3 linked regions of the Homo sapiens genome follow. The protein of the gene in region 2 purifies or fractionates together with the protein of the main gene of each other region. This does not show direct contact. Each region holds a gene or a part of one and is shown on either strand. Other genes may lie near its edges. The genes, in order: SIRT3, REG4 and PITRM1.

What was found.
Region 1: the proteins of REG4 (region 2) and SIRT3 purify together in Homo sapiens (affinity purification with mass spectrometry; 2 studies listed by BioGRID and IntAct, with this or other methods). This does not show direct contact.
Region 3: the proteins of REG4 (region 2) and PITRM1 purify together in Homo sapiens (affinity purification with mass spectrometry; one large-scale study listed by BioGRID and IntAct). This does not show direct contact.

Annotation. Positions count from the first base shown.
Region 1 is NC_000011.10:229,774-233,428, forward strand, and holds part of SIRT3 (NAD-dependent protein deacetylase sirtuin-3, mitochondrial), read right to left. Parts: coding exon 3,570-3,655; intron 3,443-3,569; coding exon 3,210-3,442; intron 934-3,209; exon of another isoform or gene 780-933; coding exon 679-779; intron 1-678.
Region 2 is NC_000001.11:119,794,399-119,798,053, forward strand, and holds part of REG4 (regenerating islet-derived protein 4 isoform 1 precursor), read right to left. Parts: intron 288-3,655; coding exon 220-287; 3' UTR 1-219. UniProt on the Homo sapiens protein: Calcium-independent lectin displaying mannose-binding specificity and able to maintain carbohydrate recognition activity in an acidic environment. May be involved in inflammatory and metaplastic responses of the gastrointestinal epithelium.
Region 3 is NC_000010.11:3,139,360-3,141,791, forward strand, and holds part of PITRM1 (presequence protease, mitochondrial isoform 2 precursor), read right to left. Parts: intron 2,411-2,432; exon of another isoform or gene 2,242-2,410; intron 1,454-2,241; coding exon 1,328-1,453; intron 1-1,327. UniProt on the Homo sapiens protein: Metalloendopeptidase of the mitochondrial matrix that functions in peptide cleavage and degradation rather than in protein processing. Has an ATP-independent activity. Specifically cleaves peptides in the range of 5 to 65 residues.

The sequences.
Region 1 (3,655 bases), on a different chromosome or scaffold from region 2:
AAATATAGCTAAACGTGGAGTTACCCAGCAATACTTGTAGGTATCATACTCAAAAGAATAAAAAACAAGGACTCTCAAACGAATACTTGCATATGCTCCACAGCAGAACTATACACAAGAGCAGAAAGGTGGGACAACCCAAACACCCATCCATGTACAAACAAACCAACTGTGGTGCATACATCAGTGGAACATTTAGCCATGAAACAGGATGAAATACTAACACAAGCTACAAGGCGAAGGAGCGAGAAACATTTTCAGGAAATAAGCTCGGCACAAAAGGCCATCTGATTGCCGGGCGTGGTGGCTCACGCCTGTAATCCCAGCTACTTAGGAGGCTGAGGCAGAAGAATTCCTTGAATCCGGGAGACGGAGGTTGCAGTGAGCCGAGATCGCCCACTGCACTCCAGCCTGGGCGACAGAGTGAGACTCAATCTCAAAAAAAAAAAAAAAAAGTGGGCAGCTGGAATTGGCTGAAGGGAGATTCATTTTCCCTACATATTTCTATATTGTCTTAAATTTTTTTACAAGCATGTATTGATTTTCTAATTTACAAATAAAATGTTTCACACTATTATTGTTCAACTGTCCTTTCGAGACAATGCTTATAAAATACCACTTTTCCAGATCACCCCAACAGCAAACTGCAGAAGGACAACCAACAGCAGGATAACTCACCCGAATGTCCTCCCCTGGGAAGGGTCTTTGGCAGACTGTGCAGGTGGCAGAGGCAAAGGTTCCATGAGCTTCAACCAGCTTTGAGGCAGGGATGCCCGACACTGAAATTCAAGCCAAAGCGAAGTGTTGCTGCCGCCTCCGAGATGAGCACGCAAGGCCAAGAGCACAACTTCTGGGCTTGGCAGGACTCCTGGAAGGAGGCACAGCCCCTTGGGGTTGTGATGTCCTCAAGCCTGGTTTTCATGCCCGTATCACCTACATGCGCCATCAACCAGAATAAGGCAGGGGAGCAAAGGGGCACCTAGCTGGAGCCAAATCACGGTTAAAACAAAGCCTGTCAAAACTCAGTACGAAAAACCATTTGATAAAAGCTCAAATAAAATTATATCCAGCCGGGCACAGTGGCCCACACCTGTAATCCCAGCACTTTGGGAGGCCGAGGTGGGCAGATCATTTGAGGCTAGGAGTTCAAGACCGGCCTGGCCATCATGGTGAAACCGTACCTCTACTAAAAATACAAAAATTAGCCAGATGTGGTGGCAGGCACCTGTAGTGCCAGCTACTCGGGGAGGCTGAGACAGGAGAATCGCTTGAACCCGGGAGGTGGAAGTTGCAGTGAGCTGAGGTCGTGCCACCGCACTCCAGTTTGGGTAAGAGAGCGAGATTCTGTCTCAAAAAAAAAAAAAAAAATTACACCTAATACCAGGCTGGGTGCAGTGGCTCATGCCTGTAATCCCAGTGCTTTGGAAGGCCAAGGCAGGAGGATCACTTGAGGCCAGGAGTTTGAGACCAGCCTCAGCAACATAGTGAGACTTGTCTTAAAAAATTTTTTTAATTAGCCAGGCATGGTAGTGCATGCCCGTAGTCCCAGCTATTCCAGAGGCTGAGGCAAAAGGATCACTTCGGCCCAAGAGTTCAGGCTATAGTGAGCTATGATCATGCCACTGCACTCTAGCCTGGGCAACAGAGCCAAGACCCTGTCTCAAAAATTTATATCTAATATCCAGGAACATATCTTCTATTCTACAGATACCAAGTTAAAATGAGGATATAAATATCATAAATTCCAAAAGAATTGCTTGGTAGAAACAGACAAAAAGTGACTTCTTATGAAAGTTGTGTTAGTATTAACTGGTTCTGAAAGGCTGCGGTGGCACAGCCAGGGTCCCAGCTGCAGGAGGCTTCCCAAGTCCCTGTCGCTGCCCTAACTCAGCAGTGCTGAATCTCACAGCCAGGAGCTCCCACCTTCCCACAAGGCCTGCCCTGCTGCACCTCTGGGAGAAGAGCCCACCAACATGGGGCATCCGCTGCTGCCTCTGTGGTTCCAAGTCAGGGGATCCTTCTGGCAAGGAAACACATTCCTGGAGCCAAGGTGCCACCTCTTTTTAACTGACAACACATCAGCAGTCTCTCCGGGAGCCTGGCTCCCGGAGAGCTGACTGTCCCAGCACCTGTCTGCATCACTGCACGTAAGGAAAAGGCCCCACCAAGTGCTTCCGTTAGGTGCACGGCCAGAAGTTGGCACAACCTGTGAATCGCTGGTTTGGGCACCATATGGATACGGTCAAGAAATCACCACAGACTAAGTGTGACCATATTAAGGAATTACTAGTGATTCTTCAGTGTGAATCACTATCAGAGTTGTTTTTATTTTTTAATTATTTTTATTTTTATTTATTTTTTTGAGACAGAATCTCCCTCTGTCGCCCAGGCTGGAGTGAAGTGGCACGATCTCGGCTCACTGCAACCTCCGCCTGCTGGGTTCAAGAGATTCTCCTGTCTCAGCCTCCCGAGTACCTGGGATTACAGGCACACACCACCACGCCTGGCTAATTTTTTGTATTTTTAGTAGAGACGGGGTTTTGCCACGTTGGCCAGGCTGGTCTCGAACTCCCGACCTCAGGTGATCTACCTGCCTCGGCCTCCCAAAATGCTGGGATTACAGGTGTGATCCCACACCTGTAATCCGGCACCCGGCCGGAGTTGTTTTTAAAGTATTCTCTAGAGCTATCCATTCATGTGTTTATAGATTATTTCTAGATTAAATTCATGATGTGAGAGATTTGCTTCAAAATAATCTGGGGATTTGGAAGAAGGTGGTGAGGACGCAGGAAGAACTGGCTGTGTGCTGGTGATGAGGACAGGACGGTTCGTTACATTGCTCTCTTTGTGTGTGCTCAAAAAAATTCCATAATACACTTCTTAAAAGAGAGAAGAAAAAAAGAGATCATCACACCAGATTGGCAAAACAATGTCAACTTCTGCCCAAAATACACAGCTCTGCAGGTATGCAGGAGAACAAGCAGTGGCCTTTAAACACCCAGAGGACATTTTCCTTGGGAACAAAGCCCTAACTAGTTGGCTCAAAAAAAGTCCCAAGGAAGAAGCATAAGCGATAGGTTTTGGCCGTCCCCAGAAACAGGCACCCGAGCATCCCCTGTGAGAAACAGGCACCCGAGCCTCCCTGGGAGAAACAGGCACCCGAGCCTCCGTGGGAGAAAAAGAATGTGTGCGACTCACAGAGGGCTCACCTCTCTCAAGCCCATCGATGTTCTGCGTGTAGAGCCGCAGAAGCAGCCCCTTGTCATGAAGCAGCCGGAGAAAGTAGTGAGTGACGTTGGGCTTGTAGTTTCCAGGGTACAGCTCCTTGGCCAAAGTGAAAAAGGGCTTGGGGTTGTGAAAGAAGAATGGGAGTTCAAAAATGGCCTCGGGGTACGGGAGATCGTACTGCTGGAGGTTGCTGTACAGGCCACTCCCCGGCGATCTGCAGGGAGAGAAGAAAGGCTCTGAGGCCTTTGGAAGAGGACAGGGAAGTGGAATAAACTGGGCAGTGGGGAGGGCAGGAGTCAGGGGAGGGGAGCGCAGAAGGCAGGTGGGACTGTGGGCAGTACCTGAAGTCTGGAATGCCACTGGGTGTGCTGATGCCGGCCCCCACCATGACCACCACCCTCTGGCAGGCTCTGGCCCGAATCAGCTC
Region 2 (3,655 bases):
TGTGGAAAGGGATGGCGGGGCAAACATTTAGAGCTAGAAGCCACTACTGGGCCAATGCTAAAGTTTCTGTCTCTAAGCCTAAAAAAGCCAGTGTAGTAGGGCCCTTATCACTCTTAGTTTGCTAGGTTTCCCCTCTGAAATAATGAGCAGATTTAGCCAGGCTAGCAGAAAGGAAGAGGACGGGGCTGTGCAGGAGTTAGCAGAATCTTGATTCTTGCTCTATGGTCGGTACTTGCACAGGAAGTGTTGGCGCTTGTTGCATTCGTTGCTGCTCCAAGTTAAAAAGTCTGTAAGAAAATAAACAGATATTTAAATCCATTCAGTACTATACTGAGCTTGCCAGAGTTATCTGGGTGTTTTTCTTGGAAGCATAGATAAGGCAATATGATGGTTGACTTTATGTGTCAACTTAGCTAGACTATGATGTACAGTTGTTTGATTGCTGCGAAGGTGTTTTTTAGCTGTGATTAACGTTTAACAATCAGTAGACTTTGAGTAAAGCAGATGGCCCTCCATCATGTGTGTGGGCCTCCTCCAATCAATTGAAGGCCTTAAGAGAAAAGACCTGTCTCCCAAAGAGGAAGAAATTCTGCCTCCAGACCGTCTTTGGACTCAAGACAACAACATTAAGTCCTGCAAGAATTTCCAGGCTGCTGGCCTGTCCTGCGGTTTTGAGACTTCACAGCCCCCACAATTGCATGAGCCAATTCCTCAAAGTAAATCTCTGTCTCTCTATATATACATCCAACTACTTCTGTTTCCCTGGAGAACCGTAATACAGATACCAACTTTCCCAATGAAAGAAAAACACTTGAAATGTCACACACCATGGCAAAAGCTCCACTCCAGCACTGCTTTTGAGGAAAGGCAGGGGTTGACATGAATCAACTGAGAATGAGGGGCTCTTGTGTTGAGGCAGGATGCAGTGAGGATCTGAGTGTGGCCTGTCCTCAAGCCCACAGCTGAGGCTCTAAGAAGCTCCTGTTCAAAGTTCAAAGAACTGAAAGCTGCTAAAGCCATTCACATCCCAACAGGCCATCTGCTTATGAAAAAGGAGAGAGCCCAAGGCGGAGGTGGCCTTTTGAAGGACTGAAGTATTTTTGAGGTGAGATCCAACTATTTCCCTCCCAGAAGCCAAGCTCCACAGCATCACTTGTCTTCCATGGGTGTCTGCAGCAGAGCGAGGAGTTGTTCCCTGGCTAGGTGTCTGCTTGGGCCCTGACCTGCAGATCTGGCCCTGTTCCCAGTGCGTGTGGGTGGGTGAGAACCCTGGGGAGAGGAGGGGGTGAGGTGTGCCCCTCCCACTCCTGGTTCTCAGGAGCCACAGAGGATGGGGCCTGCCCATGCCTGCATCCATAGTGCTCAGCGCAGGAGCCACAGAGTATAAATGAAACAGGGCCTGCAAGCTTGTGGGTACTTTCACAGTGTGGGGCAAAGAGAATACGGCACAAGGCCATGGGCCAGGCTTGAGACTGACTGTCTCATCAGCAGGTCCTTTTGAGGTTGCTGCCCATTGAGCCTGTGGATAAGCTAGAATAGCAGCTTCAAACAATCAAGCACAGCCCAGCTCACTATAGGCACTAAGCAAGAGGTCTGCTTTTCCCACCTCATCAGAGGCGGAGTGCAGGGAAGGGTGACTGAGAAACCTTACTTTCCCTTTTCTCCAGGCCACGGAGCCATTAGCCTAGCTTGCACGTGATAAGCATGCCACATGTATTCAGATGATTAGGGCGATTATTTCCTCCTTTTTATAAGGAGGCATTTGAGGCACAGAGAAGTCAGAGATCTGCACAGGGTCACACAGCTCAGCTAGGAGGAGCTGGAATTCTACCCTGGGCATTCAGAATGCAGAACCCATGCTCTTGACCTCAACGTATACTGAATATGAAATTTCTTTTCCAACTGCAAAACCCAAGTTATCATTATTAAATGTCTCAAAGTGGACCAGCAAAACATCAGGAAACATTGCAAGCTGCAATTTTCCAGAGTCACAAAACACATTTTGATGTAAAGGGGAGAGTCAGAAAGGGTGAGAGAGGGACACACAAAATAAAATGCTCTGGAATTCTTTCTAAAGAGTTATAAAAAAGGAACAGCCCTGTCACAAAGAGAGAACAAGAATGTGTGTGTGGCTGTATATTGGGGCATTAATATACATTTTGAATTAAAAAAAATAGAAACTGAGTGGGGAGCAAAATCCATTGTACTGATGTGGCTGAGGGGGATGGGCTTTTAAATTCTACCTTCCACCAGTTTCTCTCAAATCCTTGCTTCATTCCTTGTGCTTTTCTGCCTTGAGAGCCTGTGTTCTGACAGCCACGAGCTGGGTAAGTAACCATGGGAAAGGAAAGGAACCCAAAGACGTGCTGTTCTCAGAGAGCTTCAGGCTTCTGGTTCCCATCCACACAACAGAGGCAACTTCGCTACTGAATTTTGCTGATGTGATCATCGACTCACAGGGAAAGGACTTTCGTTTGAGGACTTTGTCCAATGGGAATGTCAGAATCTGGGGAATGTGAGGGACTTAGGGAGGCATCTGGTCTACTGCTCCCAAAGCAGGTCTGGCCTCCAGTCCCAGAAATTCTGATGCTGCAGGTCTGAAAACGAATCCCTGATATTGGTATTTTTACAATGTTCCTCATTTGATTCTTTTGTGCCATGGAGCCTCGCTTCTAACACTTAATGCGTCAACTGCAATAACAACTACAATGTCCACCTTTTGCTTGGTTAACTCTGGTTATAAGGTTTCTCACTACTTCCTGGGGTAGCTCATTATGTGTTTGAGCAGTGCTAACTGTTTAAAATTTTTTCCTTGATTGGAGTAAAAATCCACTTGTTGATAGCCTCTACCTATTGGTTTTGGTTGTGTTTTTTCCATTTGAGCCAACTTCTGCCTTGAACAGCAGCAGCTGTGCTCTCACTGGTCTGTGAAAATCCCCTCTATGGCTGTTTATCTCTGAGGGCTTTCCTCAGAGTGTGTCTCCTCATGCCTGCCCTTTGCCTCATGCTGTTAGAAAGTTTTCTCACTCTCTCTTTCCTTCTTATAAGTTTATTCCTCTGACAACAGTAAACTGCCCCCATGTCCTGCTGGGGATGACCAAGTCCCTCCCTACCCCAGCCCAATAGCTGAGACCTCAGCCCAGGCCTGCTCCAGGCCGACTTCTTGGCTGGCAGGGGGTCCTGGTGTCACTATGATGGCCTATTAGACCCACTGGGATATTCTCAAGTATACGACCTTTGGCACTGAGTATTCTTTAATATTCTGTGATCTTGTACAGCTGAAGTTTTCTACACCGCTTATTAATCATGGTTCTCACCAGGGGGTGAATTTGCCCCCCACAGGAAACACTTGGCTATGCCTGGAGATATTTTTGATTGTCACGACCTGGGAGGAGGAGTGCTACTGGCACCTACTGATTAGAGACCAGGGATGCCGCTCAACCTCCTGCAATGTACAGGATAGCCCCCACAACCAAGAAGTATCCAGCCCAAGATGTCACCAGTATGAATGCTGAAAAGTCTAACTCATGAGCATAAAGACAAAGAATGAAAGCAGGCCAGAGAAAGGAGAAGGCTCACGCGAGTGTGTGCAGCCTGCGCTGAGCTTCAGGCCACCACATTCTGGGGACAGGATTCAGGGAAACAGACAGAAGGG
Region 3 (2,432 bases), on a different chromosome or scaffold from region 2:
GTCAGGATTACAGGGAAATTACAAAGACTTACATGGAAAAATTAAGCAAACAAAGGTTTTCCTTTCATCTCCCTGAAGACACACCCAGGGTAGTACAGGAATCAGCCTGAGGGGGCCAATCCAGACTTCCCTTCGTGTAAATGCAAAGAGCCCAGCCCTCCCTTCACCCTGAGCTGCAGAGGGGCGGCTGTGAGCTGCTTCCCCATCCTTGTCTAGAAGCATGGCTTCCAGCACAGCAAGGGGGAGAACTCATCAGAGTGGCAATGGCTACCTACGTATCTACCTACATGCCTGCCTACCTACCTAATCTAGCTATGCATCCACGGGACAGGGTCTCACTGTCGCCCAGGCTGGTGTGCAGTGGCGCAATCTGCTCACTGCAGTTTCAACCTCCCCAGGCTCAAGGGATCCTCCCGCCTTAGCCTCCTGTAGCTAGGACCACAGGCACTTGCCACTGCGGCCGGCTGGCTCCTTCTTAAAAACTGTTGGAATACATGTTCTCTTAGGCAGCAAAGCCATAGAAAATCAAGAATATTGCTTTACAGTAACGGTGTTATGTTTATGAAAGCTAACAGAACTGCATCCACATCAGGCACCTCCAACTGAAATGAGCTAAGAACGCTCTCAGGCTGTATCAGCCCCCTCACCTGGGGCCTGTGTTTCAGGACCCCCACGGCAGGGCTGCAACCTCAGACAGCCACTATGGATACTATGTTTTTTTCCTATACCTATGATAAAGTTTATAGATTAGGTGCAGCAAGATATTAACAAAATACAACAATTATACTGTAATAAAAGTTACGCTGATGGGCTACTATTAAGTAAAACAAGGGTTCTGTGAACAGAAGCTCTTGGATACCCACAGCGTATCTGATACCTAGACGGCTACTGGGTGACCAACAGGCAGGTACCGTAGACAGCGTCAGCTTTCATCCCACTGCTTAGAAGAATGGTGTACAATTTAAAACTTAGGAAGTGTTTATGTCTGGAATTTTCCATTTAATATTTTCAGACCGAGGGGGACTGTGGGTAATAAACCATGGAAGGCAAACCCACGGATGGAGGCACTACCGTGTTCTGCCAAAATATGCTGGCTGAAGCCAGGGTTTACTGAAGGCAGAATGCTTCCTGTTTCGGCTGCTGGCCCTAATCCTCGCGCCAGAAAGGACATTGCTGGGTGTGGCTAAGTGCCCAAGGAGTGAAAAGAAGCACACAGAACAACTTTTGTCTAAAATTCACTGCAGTAGAAGAAAATGACACTGATAATCATGAGTAGAAGACTAAAACGACGTGTGCATCCCAATGTGTGAACTAGAGCAAAACTCACCTGTAAGAGTAAAGGGTGAAAATCCCATTGTGGCTGAGTTTTGCGCCTCCACCATAAGCACCGCCTTTTTCTCGAATTTCTGTATGCAAGAATTTGGCAGTCATCAAACGTGCAAGGATTTTAAGACTGAAATGATTAAAAAATGCAAGTTAATACCGTGGCTGATAAAAAAGCATAGACAATGAAGTAATTGTTGGATTAAGTGAAAATGAAAATCGAGTTGTAAAATAATGCTGCATAAATTATGGTCCCATATTTTGGTCTTGTTTTTTAAGAGATGGGGTCTCGCTCTGTCGCCAGGCTGGAGTGCATTAGTGCAATCACAGCTCACTGCAGCTTTGAACTCCTGGGCTCAAGGGATCCTCCCACAACAGCCTCCTGAGTAGCTGGGCCTACAGGTGTGTGCCACCACGCCTGACTATTTTTACAGTTTTTGTAGAGGCAGGGTCTAGCTTTGTTGCCCAGGCTGGTCTCAAACACCTGGCTTCAAGTGATCCTCCTGCCTTCAAAGTGCTGAGCTTACAGGCATGAGATTTTCTTTTCAATTAACCAAAACTAAAAAGCACAAGGAAGCACAATTTTCAAACAGTTGGCTTAGATTACAGGGTTGAAGGGAGAGGTGGTGGGGAGGGAATCTTAACACTTCCAGCACCACACTGCTTAACTTGTTCCAATGCACATGTGGCATTTTTAAAATCTCGTGAAGTAGAAAGAGGTTATTTCTATTATAAAGGCAAATGAGCAAATGAACATTTATTTAAATGTCTCACATCAGAATATGGAAAGAAAGGAAACTGAAGTGAGTTTTATAAGAATCCCTTAAGAAAACACACACTCTCTGATAAAGCACATTTCTAGGAACAGGGCCAATTTCCTCTGCCTTCCACTGTGAACGGTAACATCACATTCAAGCTGATTCTAGAACACATCCACCTCCGACAGAAGGCGGGGCAGACAATGATGGGAGGGTCTGCAGCACAGACACAGGCTCCTTGAAGACGCCCGTGGTGAGATCAGCCCCAGGTCGCCGCTTCCACAGACAGGCCTTTTCCTAAAGTGGATGAAGGGAGTCAAATAGGCCAGGTGGGAAATCAAGGAAGGAGTG